Regions from separate parts of the Homo sapiens genome. Here region 2 is linked to region 1. Evidence: fine-mapped expression QTL. Tissue or cell type: whole blood. Region 1 holds a variant in brackets; the other region holds the start of a gene. All regions are shown on one strand. Distances are from middle to middle.

The links. PIP is the estimated chance that this variant, and not a neighbour inherited with it, causes the effect.
Region 2: it holds the start of RTF2, and the variant in region 1 is fine-mapped to the expression of RTF2 in whole blood (INTERVAL, PIP above 0.99).

What each region holds. Positions count from the first base shown.
Region 1 is chr20:56,408,804-56,414,012 of GRCh38, forward strand. CASS4 (Cas scaffold protein family member 4) reads left to right here and starts at 3,457. Exons shown (of 6, transcript NM_020356.4): 1 at 3,457-3,691. The coding sequence starts at 3,656. The variant G/A (reference allele first, on the strand shown) is at 2,516.
Region 2 is chr20:56,465,731-56,470,838 of GRCh38, forward strand. It overlaps RTF2 (replication termination factor 2), which reads left to right and starts at 2,897. Exons shown (of 9, transcript NM_016407.5): 1 at 2,897-3,036. The coding sequence starts at 2,968.

The sequences.
Region 1 (5,209 bases):
TGCTCTCCTGCCGGCATTCAGCCTTTCCCTCCAGCTTCCTGTCCCCACTCTGTCCCCAGAGCATTTCCTTTGCATCCTTGTTTTCAATTCTTGCCCTAATTCCTTTTCCCTCCCAACCTGGGGGTCAAAACTTGGGTGATAAAACTAATCACTAATAACTAGAGTGGCTGCAGATTCCCCAGCCCTCCCAGTATTATCCCTGCAGCAGAATATTTGGTGAATTTGTGGGCAATTCATGAAATTCTTTTTTTTCTTTTTTCTTTAAGACAGTCTCACTCTCGCCCAGGCTGGAGTGCAGCGGTGCGATCTCCACTCTACTGCAGCCTCCACCTCCCGGGTTCAAATGATTCTTGTGCCTCAGCCTCCCAAGTAGCTGGGATTATAGGCATGCACCACCACGCTCGGCCAATTTTTGTATTTTTTGTAGAGATGGGGCTTCGCCATGTTAGCCAGGCCTGGCCTCAAATGATCTGCCTGCCTCAGCCTCCCAAAGTTCTGGGATTACAGACCTGAGCTGTCTTGCCCAGCCAATTCATGAAATTCTGCTTTGGTCAAAAGAGCTATTTTTATGAGTAATCTTCATGAGATTACAGCCTGAAACTTCCCGCCAAGCCTTTAATGTTTTGAACATTGTAAGTCTGGTGTTCAGCTGTCCTTTATAATTCAAATATCGAGTGCCCAGTGTTTCACTACTACCAGTCAGGGAGCTTGATATTCACATGAAAACAACATAAAAGCATACAGAAAAACATGCAAAAGCAATTTTCCTCCCTACGCATGTATAAGGCACTATAGAAGTGAATTGGTCAGACTCACTTGTCTCAGAAAAGAAAATTCGGTCCAAACTACTGTTCTTGATAGCACATTTGCCAAGAGCATTAAGATTACCTCACTAGAGTCCTTCTGACGTAGTTCCCTTGAACTCCAGCTGTTTCAGCCTTCAGACAACCGGATATTATGCAAGCACCCAGTTTCCTAGACTAATAGTTCTTGCAATGTTTGTCCACATTAAAGGCTCATTTGCCTTAAAATACTAATGGATTGCAGCAAAATGTCTAAGGCAGTTTCTCACACCTTTCATTCAGAAAAACCATAGAGGGCTCAAATAACAGACCGAGAGGTCAAGTTCCTTATTCACAAAATATCAAACTAGGTATCTATGTAGGAGCTAGTTGATATAATTTCAGGGCCAAAGCCTATTACTTTTGTGTCTTACTTTTCTAGTTGAGGTTGTTTTCCCTAGAAAAAACAACTTGTGAATTATAGCATTCTGATCTGTATTATGAGCTTAAGGGCAGGCTCTTCAGTATAGGGAAGAATCACTGCCGGGAGTCTGCCAAGTTGATGGAAACCATCTGAACTTGAGTTACTGTGGAGTCTTTTCTAAGAGACTTGAATTCAGTTTCTGGGTCTGTTACTTTACTCTGTGACCTTGGGCAAGTTTATCCATCCTTCCTTTTCATTACAGAGAATTTCAGACATAAAAGTCAACAATACAGCAGAAACAGTGGTTTCCAGGGGCTGGGGGAAGAACAAGTAACTGCTAATGGGGTAAATGTCCAGGAATTGAAAGAGGATTACTTTTTGAAATGGTGGTTGCACAACTCTGAATGTACTAAAAACCACTGAATTGTATACTTCAAAAAGGTGCATTGGCCAGGTGCGGTGGCTCACACCTATAATCCCAGCACTTTGGGAGGCTAAGGCAGGTGAATGACGAGGTCAGGAGATCAAGACCATCCTGGCCAACATGGTGAAACCCTGTCTCTACTAAAATACAAAAAAATTAGCCGGGCATGGTGGCACGCACCTATAATCCCAGCTACTTGGGAGGCTGAGGCAGGAGAATCTCTTGAAACCTGGAGGTGGAGGTTGCAGTGAGCCGAGATTACACCACTGCACTCCAGCCTGGTGACAGAGCAAGACTCCGTCTCAAAAAAAATAAATAAATAAAGGTGAATTTTATGGTACCTGAATTATATCTTAATATAATATTAATATATTATTATTAATATAATTTATATCTTAATATCTCTATGGATCTCCTCCTTGAACCAAACTGTTCATTGCGTGGGGTCATTGTTCCCTCCCTGTTATCTGCTATCGCCTGCAGCATGCCAATTACTTGGCCCTGAAGTTAATTTCTAACAATGATAACATTTAAAAATGTGGACTGTCTCAGCCAGAAATCAGTCAGCTACTTCAATGGGTAAATACATCCTGGTGCCCAGACTTGTGGGGACGACACATGGGACAACCAGAGGACAAGACGCTAAGTGCTATCTGTTGAACTTGCCTCAGAGGTGTGGTAAAAGAAAAGAAAATTTAAAAATAAAAAATTAAAAAATGCTGTCTGACAAGAAGATAGCGGTAAGCTATCCCCCACAGCTGGTTGGGGATAGAACTTGAGCCTGGCTTGGAAGAATGGGCACCATTTTGTCTAAATAAAAATGCAGGCCGGGGCCAGGCGTTGTGGCTCACGCCTGTAATCCCAGCATTTTGAGAGGCTGAGGTG[G/A]GTGGATCACTTGAGGTCAGGAGTTTGAGACCAGCCTGGCCAACATGGTGAAGTCCTGTCTCTACTGAAAATACAAAAATTAGCCAGGCGTGGTGGCGGGTGCCTGTAATCCCAGCTGCTCTGGAGGCTGAGGCAGGAGAATCACTTGAACCCGGGAGGTGGAGGTTGCAGTGAGCCGAGATTGCGCCACTGCGCTCCCACCTGAGTGACAGAGAAAGACTCCGTCTCAAAAAAAAAAAAAAATGCAGACTTATTTTGCTCAGTGTCTGCTATGCTGTAGGTCCTCTCTAGAGATTGGATCTGAATTTAGGAAAAGTAAAAAGAGTTGGCAAGTGATGATAAACTGCATGAGCTAGCAGGGGTTTCAAGTACAACACACACGATAAGTTTATTTGATTTAAGAGAGAGAATACAGGTGCGGGGCTCAGCATAGCCCTCAGTGCAGAGCCAGTACCCAGAAGATGTTATTCATTAGGTACCATGAGCAAAGACCAGGAGATGAGCATGGGGTTCCGAGCAGGGTGAATGCACAACTGACAGGGTGGGTAGAGTGGAGACTGTGTCCTTTAAGGCAGCCTGTTTGACTGCTTTTATCCTGGCTGTCATAAGGCAAGTTTTAGGGAGCAGGAAGGAAGAAATGCTGACCGCTATCAGAAATTTGGCCTAGTGGCCTCTCATCAGGGAAATGAGCTTGGTCTGTTCGGTTGGAGTTGTTCCACAGAGTTCAAAGGACAAGAATGCTGTGTGTTCATACACTGAGCTCTTCGAAGTAGGAACTTCGCCCTATAAAGCAGAAGAGTGGTGTTTTTTTCTTCTTCTTCTTCTTTTGTGGTTTCACATAGCAAATGAGTGACAGTCTCTACTTACAGACAAAGTGAGACGTCAGGCATTGAGACGTGAGTGTGGCTTGTATTTCTGGTCCTCCCCTGCTTCACTGCTTTCATTTTACTCTTATCGTGCTTTCCAGAAAGTTTGCCTGCTGGGAGAGTCTTTTTGATCGTTTCCCATGTGTTGTCAGATAGCTCCATAGAATTCAGTTTCTGAGAACCAGCCAGAAGCATGCAGTGACATTGCACAATCTGCCTCTGAAGCTGGAGATACTAGCTGCAGAGCTCAGGGGAGCTGCTCCACATCACCGACATGAAGGGAACAGGCATCATGGACTGTGCGCCCAAGGTGAGTGATGTGGGGCTGTTTGAATGGGCTCTGGCGGGGAGCAAGCTGTGATGATTAAGGGTGTTGACCAGCTTTAGTTGTGACTTTCTAATAAAGGTTGAATACCAGTGACGTGTGAGTTGGAGATGGGAAAGTTTAACATAAGTTTAAGTGTGGGAAATAGATGTGTTGTAAAGCTCCTTACCAGTTTGCATCCAAGATGGGTGAAAATGACTTTGTAGTAGAAATCAGCTTACTTGGTTGACAGCGCCGTCCATCATTTTGCGTCCAGCAAACTCCTGAAGCAAGATGCGAGTCTGCCTCAGCCCCCGCTAATTCCTTCTTTCTCTGGACCCCAAAGACACTCAGTGCCACTCTAACTGTCCTATTTGGTTTCTGTGCTCACCTCCCAACAGCAGAGCCCAGACCCTTGCCTGCAGCCTCCCGTGCTGAGCCCACAGTGGGCACTTACATGTTATTTTCATGTTAACTTGTGCATTATGTGAGCAAAGCTGGAGCTTTCAGACAGACTTCATGCCTGTCATGAATCAAAAAAGATTCACTATTTAGAAAGGTGAAAGAAGCCAGGCACGGTGGTACATACCTGTACTCCAGCTACCGGAGAGGCTGAGGTGAGAAGATTAATTCAGCCCAGAAGTTTGAGTCCAGCCTGGGCAACATAGCGAGACCCCATCTTAAAAAAAAAAAAAAGAAAAGAAAAGTTAAAATGGCTACCATATTAAAAAAAAATTTACCCAGACATAAAGAAAGTGAAGCTCAAGGTTGTGTTTTCATCTTGCTATGCCCTTTTTAAATTTTAAGTAGAACAGGAAAAAAGAAATGAAACAAGCAGTAAATGGGGAGCTTGCTTATAAAAATCAATGCTTATTTTTCATTATAATAAAAGTGACTAGTGTGGCTGTCTGCGGTGGCTCACACCTGTAATCCCAGCACTTTGGGAGGCCAAGGCAGGTGGATCACTTGAGGCCAGGAGTTTGAGACCAGCCTGATCAACATGAAAAAACCCCATATCTACCAAAAATACAACAATTAGCTGAGCGTGGTGGCGCATGCCCGTGATCCCAGCTACTCGGGAGGCTGAGGCACAAGAATCGCTTGAGCCTGGGAGGCAGAGGTTGCAGTGAGCTGAGATTATACCACTGCATTCCGGCCTGGGTGACAGAGCAAGACTCTGTCTCAAAAAAAAAAAAAAAAAAAAAAAAAAAGTCACTAGTGGAATTTGTGACTGAGTAACCCATGACAGTCTCTCTTGTATAGATTATATGTAAATATCTTAGCTACCCTAGAATTTTGTCCCCAACTACTTACTTTGAAAAATTTCAAACCATTGGAAAAATATGGGAAGCGTGGGGGTTATTCAGTAAATCCCTGCATATCCTTCACCTAGATCATTGGTTTCTGGTACTTTGTCATATTTGTGTGCATTTATTTGTGTATATTTAGACACTGGAACACACTTCATTTTTATTGTTGTTGTTAAACTCTTTGAAAATAAATGGCCAATACAATGACGCTCCA
Region 2 (5,108 bases), 57 kb after region 1:
TCAATACTTTTCTGGAGATTTAGTTCAAAGTTTTCATCAAATTCTCAAACAGGTCCAATGACTCCCAAAAGGTTAAGAAATACTGGTTTTACTAGAGGGTAATGATTTTCCTTTTTATCATTTCATTCCTCTGCTTCCCCAAAAATCCATGGCTTGGCTAGGACAAAGTTGTCTCCGAAGATGCTTGTAAGGGAATAACCTTTATTAGTTCATTCAACAAGGCAGTGGAAGAAGAAGCAGACAATGATGACATCTGCTTCCCAGTAGAGCCGGGAGAATAAAACGGCTCAAGTCCAATAAAGCGCTGAACACAGCACCTGACATGGCAGCCAGCTCTCAACACATATTTGCTACCAATGATAATAAACCTCACAAAAGTTCTAGCTGCGTATAGTCTGAGGCACAGAGTAGCCTAGAGACCAATATTCTAAAAGAGGAAACCAATGAGGAAGAGAAAAAAGTCCAGCTGCCTGAGCTAGAACACCAGCACAGCCGGTACTGCTGGGTTTTATCAGCAGCATTTGGGGAAGCAGTTAAGTCAGACGGGCCTCATCGGAGACAGCCCCTCATCTTATACTCCTTTTACTCAGCAGCTATGAGACTCTGAACAAAGACAACTTGCACATCTGAGTCTTGGGGTTTTCATTTGTAAAACAAGAGGGATTATACCTTCTAACTCTTAAGGTTATTGTGAGCCCAAAGTGAAAAAATGCCTACAAATCTCTCAGTGCACGCATGGTCATGGCTTAATAAAGAGCCGCTATTTTTGTTTTTTCTTCCCCAAATGAGAAAAGAACACTGGTTTGAGTCTTTCTAAAGATGCTGGTGTTTCTGCTCTTCTGTATTTGACTTTCTTTCCTTTGCTGTGAGAAAGAACTAATCCTAGCACTCATTCCCGGGTCTCTCACTGCCTATGTGACCTTGAAGGAGTCATTTGATCTTTCCACGCTTCTGTTTCCTCACCAGTAAATGGAATTCTAATAGTACTAACCAGTTTTAGTATCTGCCAAAACTAGGCTTTTCACCCCTTTCTCAATGAATCTGTACTTTCTTTTGGTTTACTGAGGAAATGTACTCATATATTGAGTGTGCCAAAGACTCTTCTAGGCACTGATGATACAATGTGGAATAAAAGTCCTGGCCGGGCTTGGTGGCTCACGGCTGTAATCCCAGCACTTTGGGAGGCCGAGGCAGGTGGATCACCTGAGATCAGGAGTTTGAGACCAGCCTGGCCATCACGGTGAAGCCCCGTCTCTACTAAAAATACAAAAATTAGCCCAGCATGGTGGCGGGCGCCTGTAATCTCAGCGACTGGGGAGGCTGAAGCAGGAGAATCGCTTTGATCCTGGGAGGTTGAGGTTGCAGTGAGCCGAGATCACATCACTGCACTCCAGTCTGGGCAACAGATCGAGACTCTGTCTAAAACAAAACAAAACAAAATGAAGTCCCTACCCTCATAGAGCTTACAGTTATTGTGGTTAGCATAGAAATAAATCATAAATCAATCAGAGACCAACTAATTAAAGGGATTATTTTTTAAAATTCTCATTAATCACAGTAACAAGTACCCCAAGCTTACATATAGCCCTTGAAGTTTCCACATCCACGTATTTTCTGGGCAACTCTTCCCAAGTAAAAAATATTTTCAGCGTTTTTATGTTTCACGTAGGTCAATAGGGTAATATCCAATCATAAAGATCTGCCTTCTTGGCAATGGAGAAATTTTCCCATCATATATATGTACAAATACATACATACATACATACATACATATTAATGACAGAGTCTTGCTCTGTTGCCTAGGCTGGAGTGCAGTGGCATAATCATAAGCTCACTGCAACCTTGAATTCCTGGGCTCAGGCAATCCTTCCTACCCCCTCAGCCTCCGGAGCCGCTAGGACTACAAAAGCTTACCACAACGCCTGGCTAATTTTTCTTTTTCTTTCAAGATGGTGTCTCACCATGTTGTCCAGGCTGACCTGGAACTCCTGGGCTCAGGTGCTCCTCCCGTCTCGGCCTCCCAAAGTGCTGGGATTATAGGCACTTTCCCATAATATTTATAATAATTAAAGGAACAAACAGAGAGATAGACAATCGCCTAAGAGCAGACAGACAATCATGAATTTTTAGCAAGGGATTTGTGTTCTTATAGATAAAATACAGCCTGACTCTTGGAACGGGCATGGCAACATCAGTGTATATTTTATAAGAACTATTATATCGTCTATTAATGATACTTGATTGTTAATAAAATTTTTTTAGCCTGGGCTTCAGGAAACTGTGAATGAAATACACACACGCACAAACTGTATGCAAAATTTCACACACATGCCATCTACAATATGCATGGCAACACCAGAAAGTTCCAGGCCTTAAGGGAGGGTCTTACTTCCTAGAATCTGTTGTAACATCACTTCACAAGATTTGTTGTGAGTGCTTGAGTCACAGTTGGCGCTCAAGAAAGATGCGTTCTCCTTTTAAACACAAAAATGTCCATTGATACAGCAGATTCCGTTCATAGGCATCCTTAATCGCAGAAACAGGAGGGCGGCCCTTTTCCTCAAGGCGCTCTCAGTCCAGGGATGTGCCCGCTCCGCAGCCACACAAGCTGGCGTGGGATAGGGTCAAAGAGCGGTGGATGCGCACGGGCCGCCCACGCCCTCGCTGCCCTCCCGGAGCGTGGGCGAGTGATTCCGATTGTGCAGCAGAAACCCAGGGTCTCACGGGAACGAGGAAACCCGCCCACGCCCAGCCTCCAAGCGACGCTCTCCATGACAACCGGCACTTGGTAACGGCCTCGCCCTGCCCCGCTACGCCGCGCCTAGCGTGCCGCCCCGCCCCGCCCCGCTACGCCACGACCAGCGTGCTGCGTCACGGCGGTGCGCCGGAAGTGGCTGCGGATTTCGCCGGAAATCCCGGAAGTGACAGCTTTGGGGGTTTGCTGCTGGCTCTGACTCCCGTCCTGCGATGGGTTGCGACGGGGGAACAATCCCCAAGAGGCATGAACTGGTGAAGGGGCCGAAGAAGGTTGAGAAGGTCAGTGATGTGGGCCGGCTCTTGGCGACCGGGGGTGGTGGGAATTTGACGACCCCAGAAAACGAGAGGAAGTAAGAAGGGGGAGCCAGCGGAGTTCCAGACCTGGCTGCGGTCTTTTATTCCATTCAGAGGACTCAAAATTAACAACAGTATTAAGAGTGGACATTCAATGGGTGCTGACTATTGCCATTCACTGGACAGTAATCTTAACAGGGGGTATCTCATGTAATTATCACAATAGCCCTATAGCTACATACTGTTGTCCTCATTTTCAGACATGGAAGTTGAGGCTCAAAAGGAGAAATTTGCAAAGCTAGTAAATGGCAGAGCCAGGATTTGAACCCTACCTGCGACTAGTAGCAATAATACAAATACCTAGTGTATACTGAGTTTTGTATACACTAACTTCATTTGCTCAGAGAAGCCTTCCCAAACTGTTCCCTTACCACATCCTTTTATAAACTGTCTTAGCCTGCACACGGCTGTACGTGGTTGATTTGTATCAAGTCTTCCCCGCTAGACGGTAAGTTCCTGATAGCAGAGGCTGTACCCTTTTTTTCTCTGCAACTAGCATGGTTCCTGGCACACTAAATATTTCGAATAAACAAATGAGTGAATAATCCCTGATCTCACAAGTAATCGAGGAAATTATAATAATTTCTTTGCTACTGACGGGGACATTGAGTCCAGGGATATTAAGGTGACTAAGATCACACAGCTGGTAGGTAGTGAAGCCAGGATTCCCATCCACTTATTTGGGATTTCAAAGTTAGCACAAGTAATTACTTTTTAATGATAAAATATTTGTAAAGCACCTAGTAGAGACTTCTTTACAAAAATATTTGTAAAGCACACGTGGAGACTTCATGTATTCTGATTCAGGAGCTGGAGAGCTTGTTTAAAAGGTAAACCCCTTAAGTCACTATTGTATTTGAAGCATTCCAGTGGCTTCCCATCACATTAAGAATAAAATCTCGTCAGACCCTTGAGCAGACCTTGCCTATGTTTCTGACCTCATCTTCTGCCCCTCTCCACCTCTTTCATACTGTTCTAGCTAAACAGGCCTCTTGTTCTTCAACCTGGAGTGTGAGTTCATCAATCTGAAATACTCTTCACTGAGATTGTCACATGATGAGTTTCTTTACTTCATTCAGTTTTTTACTCAAATGTCATCTGTCCACTGTAACTGAAATGTGCCTCACTTCCAATATTCTCTCTTCTCTTCTTAACAGTGCCTACCACTGTGTTGTTTATTGTCTCTTTCCCACGTAGACAGGAACCTTGTGTGTCTTACCTCTGTAACCCCTACCATGTGTCAGCCACATAATAGACACCTAATAAGTATGTGTGAATATGGGAATGAATGAATACCCAAGAGGATGAAGTGTACCCTCTGATCATACGTACATGTAAACAGGCGAATGCTGGATAATTAGCATTCATGAGTGGTTTTTTGGCTTTCACCAAAAAAGTGTTTAGCTCAGTTTTGTTTTCTTGTGCCCAGGGCTGAAAAGGAGTAGCTTAATGAAAGGCTTGACAAGAAACAGGTGTCGGAAGAGGGTAGAAAAGAAGGAAGAGCGATTCAAAAAAGCCAGAATGCCTAGGCAGGATGGATTTTTATTATAACTATTCACACAACAAATGCTTAATAAGTGGTTACCATATATACATTGTTGTAGGCCCCAGGGATATAGCAGTGAACAAGGCAGAGTCTAGCCCTGGTGGAGCTTACATTTCGGATCAATATTGTGAAATCTGCCCTGGTTCCTAACGCAGAGCACCTAAATTCCTTGTAATTTCCTGGGTGACGGGATCATCTTTTGTTCTAATAAGGCAATTATTGGTGGGCTCCTGGATGGGGCCTGGTCACCAGAAACACCAAGCCAAGATTAGAAGCCTGGAACTTTCAGCCCCACCTCACCCCCATCCTTCAGGGAGGAGAAGAGGAATTGGACATGGAGTTAATAATCCATCATGCCTACGTGGTGGGGTCTCCATAAAGATCCCTGAAGTTGAGGGTTTGGAGATTTTCTGGGTTGCCGACAACATCCACATGCCAGGAGAGTTACCCC